Homo sapiens: one gene and its partner. The protein of the gene in region 1 binds, or shares a complex with, the protein of each later gene. Each region holds a gene or a part of one and is shown on either strand. Other genes may lie near its edges.

Region 1 (7,938 bases):
GGTTTTTTCAAAGAACATTTAAGTCCATGTTCATTTTCCTGCTTCAGGGAAGATGGTAGCAAAGTTGAAAGCCGAATCCCTTCCTATTTTAGCACTTCCAAGTATCCTGGATGAATATAGGGGCGAGGGGCTACACTGACAATGAGCAGGATGCACTCTAGGTCATTGTGGACAGGCACGGAGCTCTTGAGAGCACTGCTCAAAGGAAAGAGGGAATCTCTATCTGGATGGTTGGCCTGGAAACTAAATAATGACTAATGCCAGGCCAGCCCCGTTACCCTGGGGTGGGTATGGATGGCCCTGGGCTCCCCTCCGTATCCTGGTATCGTGACGAAGGCCATGAGAACCAGCTCTGGTTTACAGACTCGATGCAGGAGCTGGAGGTGGCCAGCACATTACCAGCCTGTCAAGGATGAAAGACCACCTTGGGCATGGAGAGGCCCAGAGGCAAGCATCAGAGCAAGAGAGAGGAGGTGGGAAGTCCATTCAGAGGCAGACGTAGATTCTACGTTCCAGTTACGGCTGATCTATGGACTCTCCTGAGCCCGCCCCCAGAACTGCCGCAACTCTCCAAAGGCTTTTATTCTTTGAAATAGAGTTGCCATTGAATTAAAAGCCTACAGGAGAGACGGGCCTGGTCTGTGGTCTCACTAAAGCCCAATGCCCAATTAGGTCCAGAGAAGAAAGAAGAGTGAGTTCCCTACCTGGATTTAAGAACTCGGACCACTTTGGACTGGTTTGTCCAATCTCTCTTATAATGCTAAATTCCATTGCTGAAGCCTCCAGAAATGATCTCTTCTGCTACATCAAGCCTGGGAGTTTACACAATGATACACTATGTTTTACCTTCAAAGATAATGCTCCTAACATGAGTAGGACAAATTAGAAATCTATTTTTTTAGAAGCTGTAACAGATTTGGGCTTTCTTACTCTCTGGCTGAGGGCACACATTTGTGAGTGAGCAGGTTGATAAAGAAAGCTAACTAGCCAATAATGAGAATGAGCCAGGCTGGCTGTCAGTCTTCAAACCAACAGAGCTAGCCAGCCCGGGGTGGAAACCAGGATGGGGAGGGAGACCCATCAGTGGAGAGTCCACTCCTGCACTCTTGAGCAGTGACCCTCAATGAGGGGAGGGGCAGTTTCTGCAAACGTATTTAAAATTCCCATTACTTTTGTTTTCAGCCATGAAAGACAGGAAAATACAATTTTCTGTTCACCAAGGTGGCAAAAAGGTGCTAAATACTGCTAGGAAACAAATGCCACTGATCCCTGTCATAAAGAACAGCAAGTCATCTACAAGAAGGCAGCCTTGCTCAAAGTGGTTAGCACTCGCATGTGTAAAGATTTCCAAGAGTTCTGAAGACAGCCAGCCAGCACTGCTTATCACACACACGGGGACCCTGAACAACTGACTCCATCCCAAGAACATTGTGAGGTTCAAATGACATTATGTGAGTGAAGGTGCTCTGAAAATTTGCCAAGTTCCACAGAAATCCCAGATATCATTAAAAGCGAAGAGCCCTATCGTATATGGTTAGAGAAGAATATTGAGTTTCCTACGTCTTAAAATGAGTAAGAGGATTACCATGTATTGGTGCATCTGCCCACAGTGAGTACATGCTGGGAGAAAGGTGAGTGGTATAAACAGTTCTTTTCTGAGTACCAAATTCACTTTGGGCAGGAGGGAGGGTGGGGCAGAGGCTGACGTTTTCATTTGTGAGCTGGTGTATCTTCGGAATTATTTTTAATTTTAAAACCATGCAAAATGAATAAGCAAAAAGACTAGTGCACTCCAGCCCTAACCATATTATCTTCACAAAAACTGCCTCAACTTTATTTTCTAACTGAAGCTCCCTGACTCATTTCATTCTACTGCAGTTTTAACATCTCTAAAAGTCTCCATCCACTCTCTCCCCCACTTTCCACGCAGCTGTTAATCCATTCTGGGGAGGAGAGAACTTAGCCATCTGCTCACATTCTGACTAAAGTTAATTTGGCACTTCAAATAAAAAAAAAAAAAAACACACAAAACTGACTTTCTAGCCACAAAATAAACTAGTAGCAAATGGTATCTACCAAAGAATGTCCCAGTCATAATCATTGGGAGAAACTGTGACCCGCACAGTAGCTACATTAAGACCAAAAACTTTCCATACTATATTTCTATATAGCAAATATTCAAGCTGTATTAAAACTAATTATTGCAGCTTTCCATTACTATATGGCCACCCCAAAATCCACCCAACTACATTCTATAATTTATTTAATTTAGAGAGGTATCAAATGGAAAACTTCTTTTAATCCAAAATAAGAACTTAATGTATCACACAAAGCATCATCTAGACTGGAAGTGTGTTTTCAATTGGTTCCTCCAAAATTTTCGTGTCAACAAATTACTTGGCAAAGTCAGAAAAAAGGGGTGAGAAGGAAAGCCTGGTAATAAAATTCTAATTTTTTAAGTCTATAAATCTGAAAAAATCTCTAGTCCTGGTTCCATGTACAACAGCAACCTAAGAAGCAGCAGATAGGCAGCCATTGTCATGATTTAGCAACGAGCCACACGACAGTTAAGAAGGGAACATGGAAGACTGTGAGGTTCCGTCTTCGGGGGTTCACACTGTGTACCCGACAATCAACTCTAGGGAAGAGATCATTCAGCCTGGGCAGACTTCCAGCTAAGTTTGTACCCTGTCCTTGCGTAAGTCTACTGGCACACACACAAAGCACAGCTTGAAAAATCTCAGAAGAAGCAAGAGTTCTCTTTTAATAGGTGCTATATCTAGTCAATTCTCTGCTGCTCCCTTCTTCCTGCCCCAAGTTAAAAATATTGCCCTGTAAGTTTTCCTGATGTACTGTGTGGGAAGCACATGGTTAAGTTAGTTGCCAAAGGGCAATTAACAAGGGTATTGCCTAATTAAACAAGGGAAAAGAAAAATCACTGTGGTCTGTGGTCTCTGAAAAAAAAAAAAAGAGTAAGTGGGATCTGTGTGAGGAGCTGGTGTGCAGTGTTCTTGGAGTAGGACTGTCCCCAGATGGAGAAAAGCCGGCCAGGCTGTGCCAGCCTCTGCAGCCTGTTTTCATCTCTACAGCTGTTTCGTCTCGCCAGCAGAGCCCAGGGATGGTACCAAGTACACTGTGAGAGCTGATACTGGAGTTGGCAGATGCCCTGGGGCAGGCGCCATGCAGAACACACAGAAGTGGGGTTAGTGAAAAGGTCCCTTCGAATTCCATTTCGTTTCCCTTAAAAAACAAAAACAAAAAAGCCCATACTTTGCAAAGAGACAGGACGAGAAATAAGAAGTTAAAGAATTTAAAATGTCTCCCTTTTTCTCAGAGCCAATTGTAAAAAAGTGCTCAGGGTTCCCCACCCCCACCCTGCATTTCTTTAGTGTAGGTCCTTTTGGCTTTGATGGAAGCAGCAGAAACAGAGCTGGGTCCCTCGCAATGGGAAATTTATTTCCTGAAGTTGGAGCCACAGGGAGTGTAAGAGGTACTGTGGTTCCACCATCCATGCTGGGTCCAGCTCCTCTGAAGAGCTATTCCAAGAGGTCCTGAAAAAGACATGCACCATATTACCGACAGACCACAACACTCCTATTTCAAAAGCAATCACCTAGTTTCTGGGCTTGCCAAATCTTATGGTCATTAAGTCGCCTTGGCCCTGGCATATCTTGATCATGAATAGAAGACAGACTTTATTTTCTTGTATTTTTTGGGGGGGGGGGTACTACCATTCAAGAAGAAATAGCCTCACCTCATCTGAGTCATCATGATAACCACTTTTATTAGTGTGGGAGGCTGTGTCCAAAGCATCCACACCATCCACACCATTGGCCTCTGCATGCTGCTGCAGCACAGAGTATCGATGCACCAGGAACCTGTGAACAGAAACCTCCTTAACACTCGGTGGTACACAGCAGGGGTGCACTTCTTACAGGACTGTGGACTTTCTCAGTTTTATACACTCAGGAACGCATCACAGACACAGAAAGCACAGTCCATGGTTGACATATGAAAAATGTACGACATGAGAAGATTTGGGCCTGATTTTTCAGGAACAGTACTGCAAGTACCTAGTTTTTGCCAAGAGTAGACTCAGCCATATGCCCTAGATCAGCCTTCTGGCTTGAACTCAGTACCTTGGATTGACTTCTGTGTTCCTTACCTTCCCCCACAGACATATTTCTTCACAATGAGCACTCCTGCTACGACTGTGACCAGCATCAATCCCACGATGGCCAGGATAATTGGAACAGAATTTGACTTGGAATTCTTGAGAAATTAAAACACAAACACAAAAGTTTTAGGCATGCATATCCTAGGACTGAGGTCAAGGCAGCCACTCATTCCCCTCATCTCTTTGTGAATGATCTGCAGTCCTGATGCGCTTAATGATGGCTCTTTTCCAACCCCCCAAGATGAACCATCTCAGTGTTACCAGGAGAATATTATAGCTGGCAGAGAGTCATCTTAGCTCCAACTGCCTTGAACCTTCAAATTCTGTGGTTTAAATGTCAAAGTTACACTGGAAGCCTGGGCAACTGCCTAGATCAAGTATGATTGCTTCACACTACCACTGTTCACAAGTCTTGGGGCTTAAGGGTGGAGTAGGAAAGGGAGACTACTGTAACAGTAGGCTGAATGACTCTAGAACAGGGCCATTATCTGGGAAGAAGCTGTGTCAGAAGAACCAGGCAGGCCATTATATGACACCAAGATTTATTTGTTTACTTAATTTTTTATATATTATTATAAATAAGCCTTATCATATCACTGTTTGCATGTGACCTACCTGCTTCTGGGTGGGAAATAGGGAGTGTGTGTTTTCAATGTATCCCAGAGGAGGCAGAGCTGGATTCTAGGACAAGCTGTGTCCCTGTGGGTGGGAGTCCTGTGCAATCACACACACGAACACTCTGAGGAGAGTCACCAGGAGCCCAGGACAAGGGTGCACAGAAGGAGGAACTCGCCCCCTTACCAATACACACACTCACACACTCCTCTCCCATCATCTCCTTAATCCCACCCCTTGTCAGTCCCTCATCCCTTAGAACAGCAGAGAGGAGGGACTGCAGGTGATCCAGCTTGACCTCTCCTATTACGAATTGGGAAACGGGCCTGCTGTTGAGCATCTGAAGTCATGCTGCTGGTCTAGTGTTTCATTATCAAGAGGTTTCCTCTTTACACATCTCCAGTTCCACAGGTAGTTCAGTGCTACAGATTTGGATGCAGCCTCATAACCTTTTTTTTTTTTTTTTTTTTTTAAATTGAGACAGGATCTCACTCTGTCACCCAGGCTGGAGTGCAGTGATATGATCATGGCTCACTGCAGCCTTGACCTCCCAGGCTCAGGTGATTCTCTCCCTTCAGCCTCCTGAGTAGCTGGGACTACAGGCACACACCACCACATCCGGCTAATTTTTGTATTTTTTTTGTAAAGATGGAGTTTCTCCATGTTGCCCAGGCTGCTCTCCAATTCATAGCCTCAACTGATCTCCCCACCTCAGCCTCCCAAAGTGCTGGGACTATACAGGAGTAAGCCACCATGCCCGACAGGTAACTTGCTTCATTTAAATCAAAACCAGCCCATTACCATAGCTCAATTTTTCACTTTGAACATACTTAACATGACTTGGTCAGAGATCCACCCTACCTATTGCCCAGTGCTCTTCTCTTCCACACATGCACAATTCCAGGTCATGGCCCTTCACAGACAACCTTTTTTTTTTGGTACGGAGTCTTGCTCTGTTGCCCAGGTTGGAGTGTAGCAGCACGATCTCGGCTCACTGCAACCTCCACCTCCCAGGTTCACATGATTCTCCTACCTCAGCCTCCCGAGTAACTGGGACTACAGGCGTAAACCACCACACCCAGCTAATTTTTGTAATTTTAATTTTTGTATTTTTAGCAGAGACAGGGTTTCACCATGTTGGACAGCCTGGTCTTGAACTCCTGACCTCAGTGATCTGCCTGCCTTGGACTTCCAAAGTGCTGGGATTACAGGTGTGAGCCACTGTACCCAGCCCACAGACAACCTTTTTGTTTTCCTAAATGACTCTCAGCCTCAGAAATTTCCACAACTGTATGATTTTAAGAATTTTACAACTTTACAGAATATCATCCCCCAACCCTCAATAAGAAAAGAGCTTTCAGTAGGGTGAGCTTATCACTGGGTTACATGACCCATCCTTCATGCTAACAGCTTCCTGTATAAGGGAAGCCTGAGAGAAGTAGTTTGACCACTTTTTATCAGTAACAAAACTCTTGATGCTTTAACTTTGATTTTTCTTAGCAGAACACAAAATCCCATTTGTACCTGAAAACTAGACCTATTTTAACATACCTGTTTTTCCGGACTCAAAAAGTTGCTTGTGCATTTCTTTTTCAAGTCTTTTACTTCTCGAACTGGATTTACCCCACCCTGGCATTTGTCCCCTGGAATTTTCCGGTACCTACCAGGCAAAGAAGATTTGGTAACAGAAGATAAGGATGTATTCCTGGGTACCTGCCTATTTCTTGGAAACAAGATTTGAAAAGCTGCCGAAAAGCTTCCCATCCTTACGTCATGTTTCAGGCCTGGGGGGAATGTCCACAGGGATGTTTTGGGGGATATTTTGTGTAGTTTCAGGCCTTAAGCAAACTAAGCATCTCTGTCCCCTGCTGTCAGAAACATGCCTGTTCTTTCTACCTAAGAGACTGTGCCAAAGAAATCTGACCCCAAAAAAGCTCATTAACAAGTGGTACAAAATGGGAGAGGGGAAGTTATCAGGGGAGCGAGGTAATGAGGCCCGTCTAGAGCAGCACTGTCCAATATGGTGGCTACTTAAAATTGATTAAAACGAAAATTTCAGTTCCTCGGTTACACTAGTGTCCACAGCTATGTGTGGCTAGTGACTATCATATTGGGCACAGCAAATTACAGAACACTTCCATCACCAAAGAAAGTCCTATCAGACAGAGCTCTCCCTGGCTGTGCCTAAACTGTGCCAGACGAGCGATGGACGTTCATGGCGGATGGGACGCTTCTGTCATTCTGCCTGTGGGTCCCTCGCCTCTCCTCCCTTCCTGGGGGTGGTTGGGCGGGAGGCAGGGGTGCAGGATCTGGCCGAGCTTGTTCTCCTGCTCTGCCTCGTGGTGTTGGTGGGGTTGAGTCCTCTGACACCAAGCACTCATGGCTCACCTCCTGTAGTTGACCCTTGAAGGAGGCCTTCATATCCTGCCCCTCCCCAACCCCGCCAAAAATAGTGCTCTAAAGTAGGGCTTGGATCTCAGTGTGGAGAGAAGCAGCTTTCACTCTGAACAAGAACACCTCATCCATCGTGACAAGGGAGAAAAGGCCACCTCACCCATTTGTTGTTAGGTGTTCTTCTCTTCCGTACAGACAAAACTCCAGGTCGTGGCCCTTCAGTTCTGGCTGTTCCACACACTTGGAGTCATTTTCTGGACGGTAGTAGCCAAAATCACTGCAAGAGTCAGCAAATAAAGTACCTTTCAAAGCAGCTGGAAGACCGTTAAGTGACTAGCAATGAAGGGTTATGTGGGGTAGTGGATGGTTAACATTCCAGTCTTGGGTTGTTAGAAAGTAGCTCAGGAAGTCCTGTGACACCTCTGAAGGAGGTCGATTTAGGAAAACAGACACGGAGAGGGCCTTTTTTTTTTTTTTTTGAGATGGAGTCCCACTCTCTCGCCTAGGCTGGAGTGCAGTGGCGTGTTCTTGGCTCACTGCAACCTCCGCCTCCGGCTTCAAGCGACTCTCCTGCCTCAGCCTTCTGAGTAGCTGGGATTACAGGTGCATGCCACCATGCCTGGCTAATTTTTTATTTTTAGTAGAGAGAGCGTTTCACCATGTTGGTCAGGCTGGTCTCAAACTCCTGACCTTGTGATACGCCCACCTCGGCCTCCAAAAGTGCTGGGATTACAGGTGTGAGCCACCGTGCC
Region 2 (7,973 bases), on another chromosome or scaffold:
ACTGTGATGGTAGAACAATGTATCTACTTGGATGGTGCTCCTGGATTAGATTAACATTTAAATCAGTGAACTTTGGTTAAAGCAAATTGCTCTCCATTGTAGGGAGACCCCCTGAAACTATTGCTACGGAATAAAAGATGAAATGCTCCTGATTATTGTAAATACGAAATTGCATGCAGGATTGTGTAAAGACAATGCCAGGTTGGACTGCCAGTATAAGCCAACAGCTCGTGATGTGCTTCCCCCTGAAGAGAGCCTATGAACAGACGTGCAGTCAGGGAGGTTTCACATCACCAATATTCCTATCCCAGAAAAGCAGATGTTCATAGCCCTGGGAATGGAATGTGACCCTTGTGGAGGGCCTATAAATGGACGCATGAGCGGCACCTGTTCATATGGATAAGATAGGGCTATAAATGCCCTCATCTTGCCATGGCTCTTCTAGGCCTCTTTAAGGTTAAGGCATACTCCCTTCTGATAATTTCTGGTCTAACTGGTTATCTAGCTTCACGTCCTGTTTCTATGGATTGTTTGTAACCAGCTTTTGCTGCAACTCTTACTGCTGATTAATATCTTGCTAATCATAGGTTATGGAAAGACTGTGTTTCTGTTTTAAGGCTCTGTTAGAAATTACTGATGCACACACTATATTGTAAATTCTTATCTCTGTATACTGTACTTCTGCATACAGATGTTATGTTAAAGAATTACTTCATCCCCATGTGACCATCTCACCTCATAATCAAACGACCCTAAATCCCTCACTAACCTACCCTCGCCCTCACTAAACTTAATAATAAATGCTGGTATATCCAGTGCATTGGCAGCATCGCAGGACCAGAAGGCGGTGACCCCCTTGGACCCAGCTTTCACTATCTTGTGTGTGTCTATTATTTCCCGACCTGCCGATCCACCTGGGGACAAAGAGAGAGCCCCATTGCCTTGTGGGCTGCTGGCCAGATCCCGCGATACTCCATAATGTGGATGGACCTGAATAAAACAGAAAGACGGGCCTCGCCGAACTAGAGGGAATTCTCCTGCAGGCTACCCTCAGACTTAACCATCAGCTCTCCTGGGTCGCCAGCCCACCAGCTCACACTAAAGGCTTAGGATGGTTATGATAAGAAAGACAGATGATAACAGAAGTTAACCATGGATGAGGCTAAAGAGAAATTGAAACCCTCATACATCGCTGGTGGGAATGTAAAATAGTGCAGCTGCTTTGGAAAACAGGCTGGTAGTTACACAAAAGGCTAAACAGAATTATTATGTAATCCACTAATTCTACTCCTAGGTATATACCCAAGAGAAATGAAAACATGTCCACACAAAAACTTGTATGGGCCGGGCGTGGTGGCTCACTCCTGTAATCCCAGCCCTTTGGGAGGCTGAAGTGGGAGGATCCCTGGAGTTCAGGAGTTTGAGACTAGCTGACCAACATGGCAAGACCCTGTCTCTACAAAAACCACACAAAAATTAGCTGGACATGGTGATAAGCACCTGTAGTCCCAGCTACTTGGGAGGCGGAGGTGGGAGGATTACTTGAGCCCAGGAGGCAGAGGTTGCAGTGAGCAGAGATGACACCACTGCACTCCAACCTGGGTAACAGAGCAATACCCTGTCTCAAAAAAAAAAAAAAAAATGCTGGGGGGATGATGAAGATAGGCACAGTGGCTCAAGCCTGTAATCTGTAATCTCAGCATTTTGGGAGGCTGAGGCAGCAGGATCACTTGAGGCCAGGAGCTTGAGACCAGACTAGGCAACATATTAAGACAAAAAAATACAAAATATAGCTGGGAGTGGTGGCATGTGTCTGTATTCCCAGCTACTCAGGAGGCTGAGGTGGGAGGGTCTGAGGCTGCAGTACAAGGTGGCACCACTGTAATCCAGCTTGGGCGGCAGAGGAAGGCTCTGTCTCAAAAACAAAGAAACAAACAAAAATGGGCCACGCGTGGTGGCTCACGCCTGTAATCCCAGCAGTCTGGGAGATTGAGGTGGGTGGATCACTTGAGGTCAGGAGTTCGAGACCAGCCTGGTCAACATGGCGGAACCCTGTCTCTACTAAAATACAAAAATTAGCTGGGCATCATGGCACATGCTTGTAATCCCAGCTATCCGGGAGGCTGAGACAGGAGAATTGCTTGAACCCAGGAGGCAGAGGTTGCAGTGAGCCAAGATCGTGCCACTGCACTCCAGCTTGAGTGTTGGAGTGAGACTCTGTCTCAAACAAATGAAAAGAAACAAACAAAAAAGAAATGAGATACTGATACCTGCTATGTGATAAGCTTTGAAAACATTATGCTAAGTGAAAGAAGCCAGTTGCAGATCACATATTATAAAATTTCATTTATATGGAATATCCAAATCTATAGAGGTAGAAAGTAGATCAGTGGTTGCCTAGGGTTAGGGAGGGTGACTGCTAAAGGACATAAGGCTGCCTTCTGTGGTGATAAAAATGGTCTTAAACTGATTGTAATGATGCTGCATAACTCTCTTAAGACACTAAAAACCATTGAGTTGTACACTTTAATTTTTTTGTGTTGGCGGGGGTGGATGGAGTCTCGCTCTGTTGTCCAGGCTGGAATGCAGTGGCACGATCTCGGTTTACTGCAACCTCTGCATCCCGGGTTCAAGCGATTCTCCTGCCTCGGCCTCCTGAGTAGGGAATTACAGACCTCGTTATCGTGGCACCTTACCCTTCTGATGTTAAAAAAAAAAAAAAAAAGAGCGAGAGAGAGAGAGAGAAACATTTGTGAAGTAGGTTGTTGAGTCTCAGCACTATTGACCTTTTGGGCAGGATACTTCTTTGTTGTGGGGGATTGTTCTGTGTGTCGTGTGATGTTTAGTGGGATTGCTGGCCCTTACCTACCAGATGCCAGTGTCCCTCCACCCTGAGTTGTGACAACCCAGATTGTCTCCAGACACTCCTAAATGTCCCTGGCCGGCAAAATTGCCGCTGCTCAAGAATCACGGCTTTGACGATTAGACTTTGTGATATTTGTTTCAGTCTGTTTAGGTTTTTTTTCTTCTACCTGTATTTTTTTCTGGTTCTGGGTGGTTGTAATTAGTAGGTTATTGATCGATTCACCTAACATTTCATGAAAGTTTCATGTGTGTGTGTGTTTCAATAGAAGCATAAACTATACTCCCTAGTCTCAAGATACACAGGAAGGAAAATAAGCACAAATGTGTCACCAGGGCACAGACTAGTACTAGGTCCTCAGCAGGCCAGGTGTCTTATCCGCTGTCTGGGTCTGCTCTAGCTCCAGGCTTAGAACCCCTGCCACACGACTCCACAGCTCGGTTGGCACCCTTTCCCTCCTCCGACTTCTGCTGCCTCGAGCTTGGTTAGCCATCCCCCTGCCCCTGCCTCATCCTCAGCTCCAGTTCCTTGCTCAGGCTGCAGCAGTCTCCATCCCCTGTGCAGACACTGCCGTTCCTCCACGGCCCAGTATCAGGCTTTCCCTGGGCCTCTCCTCTCTCCTGGCCCATCTCCCATCATCCATCTCTGCCTGGCCCAGGCCCTTTGGCACCAAGCAGGCTGACTCTTGTCACTGGCTAATCTGTTCTGTGGTACATTTTCTCTCCTCACCCTCCCATATCAATTCCTCGAAGGCAGGGCCGATCTGGAGACTAGGAAGCCACTTCTCTTTCGACAGCCCCCACCACAGCCCAGCCCGTGCCAGGCACCCAGCAGCTCCTGAAGCCCACTGGCATTGAACATGGCATTCAATCCCTGCCAAGCCTGCCCTTCCCATCTGGTTTCCCAGGGCTCTTCCCAACACCTCCTCCTCCACCTGCCAGTTAAAATCTTCCCAGACTCAGCTCAAGGAGATGCTCCTAAGGTGGAATGAAATCTCTTCTTCCCCACCTGGAGACAATCTACTTCCTCTCCCTACACCTGGCAACTGGCGCACAACCTTGTATCTTAAATTAGATTCAGCCTGAGACTGTCTCCCACCAATCCCTGCTCCCTGTCCTGCTGAGCACCTTGAGGAAAGGGCTTTGGGGCTGTTTATCTTTGTCCTGGAAACCATCCTTCAACTCACTCTGGGGCCTGCCTAGCATGTCAACCGAGTTTGGAGAATAGGGCAGAATAGGGCAGGACAGGACAGGACAAGACAGGGCAGGATAGGATAGGAGCGAGCCAGCTCAGTAGCTCACATTTGTAATCCCAGCGCCTTGGGGGGCTGCGGTAGGAGAATCGCTTTGGGAGCAGGAGTTGCAGGCCGCAGTGAGCTATGATCAGCTTGGGCGACTGAGCGAGACCCTGTCTCTAAAACAAACACACAAGTCCGGGCGCGGTGGCTCATGCCTGTAATCTTAGCACTTTGGGAGGCCGAGGTGGGCGGATCACGAGGTCAAGAAATCGAGACCATCCTGGCCAACATGGTGAAACCCCGTCTCTACTAAAAATACAAAAATTAGCTGGGCGTGGTGGTGCGCGCCTGTAGTCCCAGCTACTCGGGAGGCTGAGGCAGGAGAATCGCTTGAACCCGGGAGGCAGAGGTTGCAGTGAGCCGAGATCGTGCCACTGCACTCCAGCCTGGCGACAGAGTGAGACTCCGTCTCAGAACAAACAAACAAAAGGATAGAAAGGCGAGCACAAATATTCCCAATTCATAACACTCCCTCGCACTGTCAATGCCCCAGACACGCGCTATCATCTCTAGCAAACTCCCCCAGGCGCCTGCAGGATGGGTTAAGGAAGGCGACGAGCACCAGCTGCCCTGCTGAGGCTGTCCCGACGTCACATGATTCTCCAATCACATGATCCCTAGAAATGGGGTGTGGGGCGAGAGGAAGCAGGGAGGAGAGTGATTTGAGTAGAAAAGAAACACAGCATTCCAGGCTGGCCCCACCTCTATATTGATAAGTAGCCAATGGGAGCGGGTAGCCCTGATCCCTGGCCAATGGAAACTGAGGTAGGCGGGTCATCGCGCTGGGGTCTGTAGTCTGAGCGCTACCCGGTTGCTGCTGCCCAAGGACCGCGGAGTCGGACGCAGGTAGGAGAGCGGCCGCGCAGACCTCTCGCCTGCTCCTGCCCAGGGGCCCGCCAGGGCCATGTGAGCTTGAGGTTCCCCTGGAGTCTCAGCCGGAGACAACAGAAGAACCGCTTACTGAAACTCCTTGGGGGTTCTGATACACTAGGGGGAGTTTTATGGGAAAGAGGAAGCAGTAATTGCAGTGACGCCCCGTTAGAAGGGGCTTTCTACCTCCCCAGCATTCCCCCAAAGCAGGGACCACACCATTCTTGACCCAGCTCCACCCCTGTCGGTAGGTGCTGGCTTCTTCCCCTCTCCTGGTGGTGGTGGGTGGTTCCCGCGGCGGCCTGGAGCCGGAGGGGCGCGCGACCCTGGGCTGGGAGCTCCGAGGGCCTGGGAACGAGACCTGAGACCTTGGCTTCTCGAAGGTAGTAGGGACTTGGGAGTGGTGACTGAACCTGGTCTGGCTCCTCCTTACTTCCTCTTGTTGCGGGTGGGACGAGCTAGCTTCCGCCTCTCCCAGCCACTTTTTCCTGCTCATTTGCAGCTAGGTTGGCTCCCCTTTTGGGAATTTCCTCTCCCCTTGGCACTCGGAGTTGGGGGGTGCCACCTAGTGGAAGATAACGGAGCTAGGGTCTTGAAGAGGCTGCTGTCCCCTCTGGCTGTTTTGGCGGTGTAGGGTGGCATGAGAGACTGCGACTCGCCTCCTCATCCCTGTTTCTGTATGCGAGTGCTTGTATTCAGTAGAAGCATACACTATACTCCCTCAATTTAGGGTAAACAGGAGGGGCCACATGCACAGGTAATTCACCAGGGAGCCGAACACTCCTGTGCAGACAGACTCCCCTTCCCAGCAAGCCATGGCAGCGGACAGCCTGCTGAGAACACCCAGGAAGCAGGCGGTGCCAGCTGCAGGTGCTTTGCCTGGGAGCTGTGGGGCTGAGGAGAGGGTCCACTGTCCAGGACCAGTGAACTTCATCCTTATCTGTCCAGGAGGTGGCCTCTTGGGGATGCTGAGTTAGGGGAGGGGCACTTGAGGAAAGCCAGGTGGAGCAGAGAGGATGTGAGTGACTGGGTGGGTGAGATTTCCTGCCCCTCCCCCCGCAGTGGTATCCACACCTAGACTCGTGGGGTAACTGAGGCACAGACAGAGAGCAACTTCTCAGGCCCTCACAGTTGGCAATTCTAGGATTAGGACCCAAGTGCGATTTTCAGGCAGTCCCTGTACCCTGTTTCTGTTGTACCTGTTGCACCATTCCCAGGCACTGCCCATCGTGCCACTAGTGATATGAACCCAGGTCCAATACGCTCTGGGGCCATCAAAGCCTGACGTCACCATGACCTGATGTGTGACGTGTTATAGGTGTCCCTTGGTATCTTCACGGAACTGGTTCCAGGACCCCAAAATCTGTGGGTGCTCAAGCCCCTGAGATAAAATGGTGTAATATTTGCATATAACCTATACATACTTTAAATCATTTCTAGATTACTTATACCTAATACAATGGAAATGACATGTCGGCTGGGCGTGGTGGCTCATGCCTGTAATCCCACCACTTTGGGAGGCCGTGGCAGGTGGATCACCTGAGGTCTGGAGTTTGAGACCAGCCTGACCAACATGGTGAAACCCCCATCTCTACTAAAAATACAAAAATTAGCCAGGTGTGGTAGCGCACACCTATAATCCCACCTACTTGGGAGGCTGAGGCAGGAGAATTGCTTGAACCTGGGAGGCGGAGTTCGCAGTAAGCTGAGATCGCGCCACTGTACTACAGCCTGGGTGACAGAGCAGGACTCCATCTCAAAAAAAAAAGAGAAAAAGAAAAAGAAATGCCATGTAAATAGTTGTGATCCTGAATTGTTTAGGGAATAATAAGAAAGAACTATCTGTAGATGTTCAGTATAGATGCACCCATCGTAAGCCTAACTACATTGTATAACTCAGCAACGATGTAACATTTTCAGGGGTTTTTTTGTTTTGTTTTTTGAGACAGAATCTCAGTCTCACTCTGTCACCCAGGCTGGAGTATGTTGGCGTGATCTCTGCTCACTGCAACCTCCACCTCCTGGGCTCAAGCGATTCTCCTGCCTCAGCCTCTTGAGTAGCTGGGATTGCAGGTGTGCGCTACCACGCATGGCTAATTTTTGTATTTTTAATAGAGATGGGGTTTTACCACGTTGGTCAGGCTGGTCTTGAACTCCTGACCTTGGGATCCGCCCACCTGGGCCTCCCAAAGTGCTGGGATTACAGGCGTTAGCCACCGCGCCCAATATATTTTGATCCCTGGTTGGATATGGAGGGCTGACTGTACTTAACATCTCTAAGCTTCAGTTTCCTCCTTTAAAATAAAGGTGTGGCTGGGTGTGGTGGTTCAAGCCTGTAATCCCAGCACTTAGGGAGGCTGAGGTGGGTGGATCAGCTGAGGTCAGGAGTTCAAGACCAGCCTGACCAATATGGTGAAACCCCCTCTCTGCTAAAAATACAAAAATTAGCCAGGCGTGGTGGCGAGCGCCTGTAGTCCCAGCTACTTGCTTGAACTTGGGAGGCAGAGGTTGCAGTGAGCTGAGATCGTGCCACTGAACTCGAGCATGGGCAACAGAGCAAGACTGTCTCAAAAAAAAAAAAAAAAAGGGGGTGAGCAGACGTGGTGGCACGCTCCCACAGTCCCAGCTACTTAGTAGGAGGCCAAGGTTGGAGGATTGCTTGATCCCAGGAGTCTGAGTCCAGCCTGGGCAACATGGCAATACCTCATCTCTAAAAATAAAATAAAAGTAAAGGTATTAATTACTACTTTGGATGGTTGTTGCAAAGAAATATATATAAAATAATGGAGAGTCTTGTAACTGGCTCCCAAGAGGCTCAACAGACATTACTGTTTTTGCTTCTTCATTATGAGTTACCTCTCTGGCCACCCCACTGAACTAGCTGGGCTAGCTGAGCCTGGGAGAAGAGTTGTTTAGGAAGTGAGAGGCTGCTCTCCACAGAGA

What was found.
Region 2: the proteins of SORT1 (region 1) and GRN are in contact, whole or in part, in a crystal structure (PDB 8T8S), measured with the Homo sapiens proteins. Residues at the interface, in NP_002950.3 of Homo sapiens: Leu108, Gly110, Ser111, Val112, Ser113, Leu114, Ile174, Gly175, Pro176, Lys260, Tyr304, Ser305, Phe306, Gly307, Leu308, Phe314, Ala315, Ser316, Arg325, Ile327, Phe350, Tyr351, Ser352, Ile353, Leu354, Tyr395, Thr398, Gly399, Thr402, Phe404; in NP_002078.1 of Homo sapiens: Pro578, Arg579, Trp580, Asp581, Ala582, Pro583, Arg585, Arg590, Gln591, Leu592, Leu593.

What each region holds. Positions count from the first base shown.
Region 1 is NC_000001.11:109,310,507-109,318,444, forward strand, and holds part of SORT1 (sortilin isoform 1 preproprotein), read right to left. Parts: intron 7,464-7,938; coding exon 7,347-7,463; intron 6,453-7,346; coding exon 6,344-6,452; intron 4,273-6,343; coding exon 4,166-4,272; intron 3,879-4,165; coding exon 3,755-3,878; intron 3,552-3,754; coding exon 3,537-3,551; 3' UTR 1-3,536.
Region 2 is NC_000017.11:44,340,329-44,348,301, forward strand, and holds the start of GRN (progranulin precursor), read left to right. Parts: upstream 1-4,973; 5' UTR 4,974-5,006; intron 5,007-7,973. UniProt on the Homo sapiens protein: Secreted protein that acts as a key regulator of lysosomal function and as a growth factor involved in inflammation, wound healing and cell proliferation. Regulates protein trafficking to lysosomes, and also the activity of lysosomal enzymes.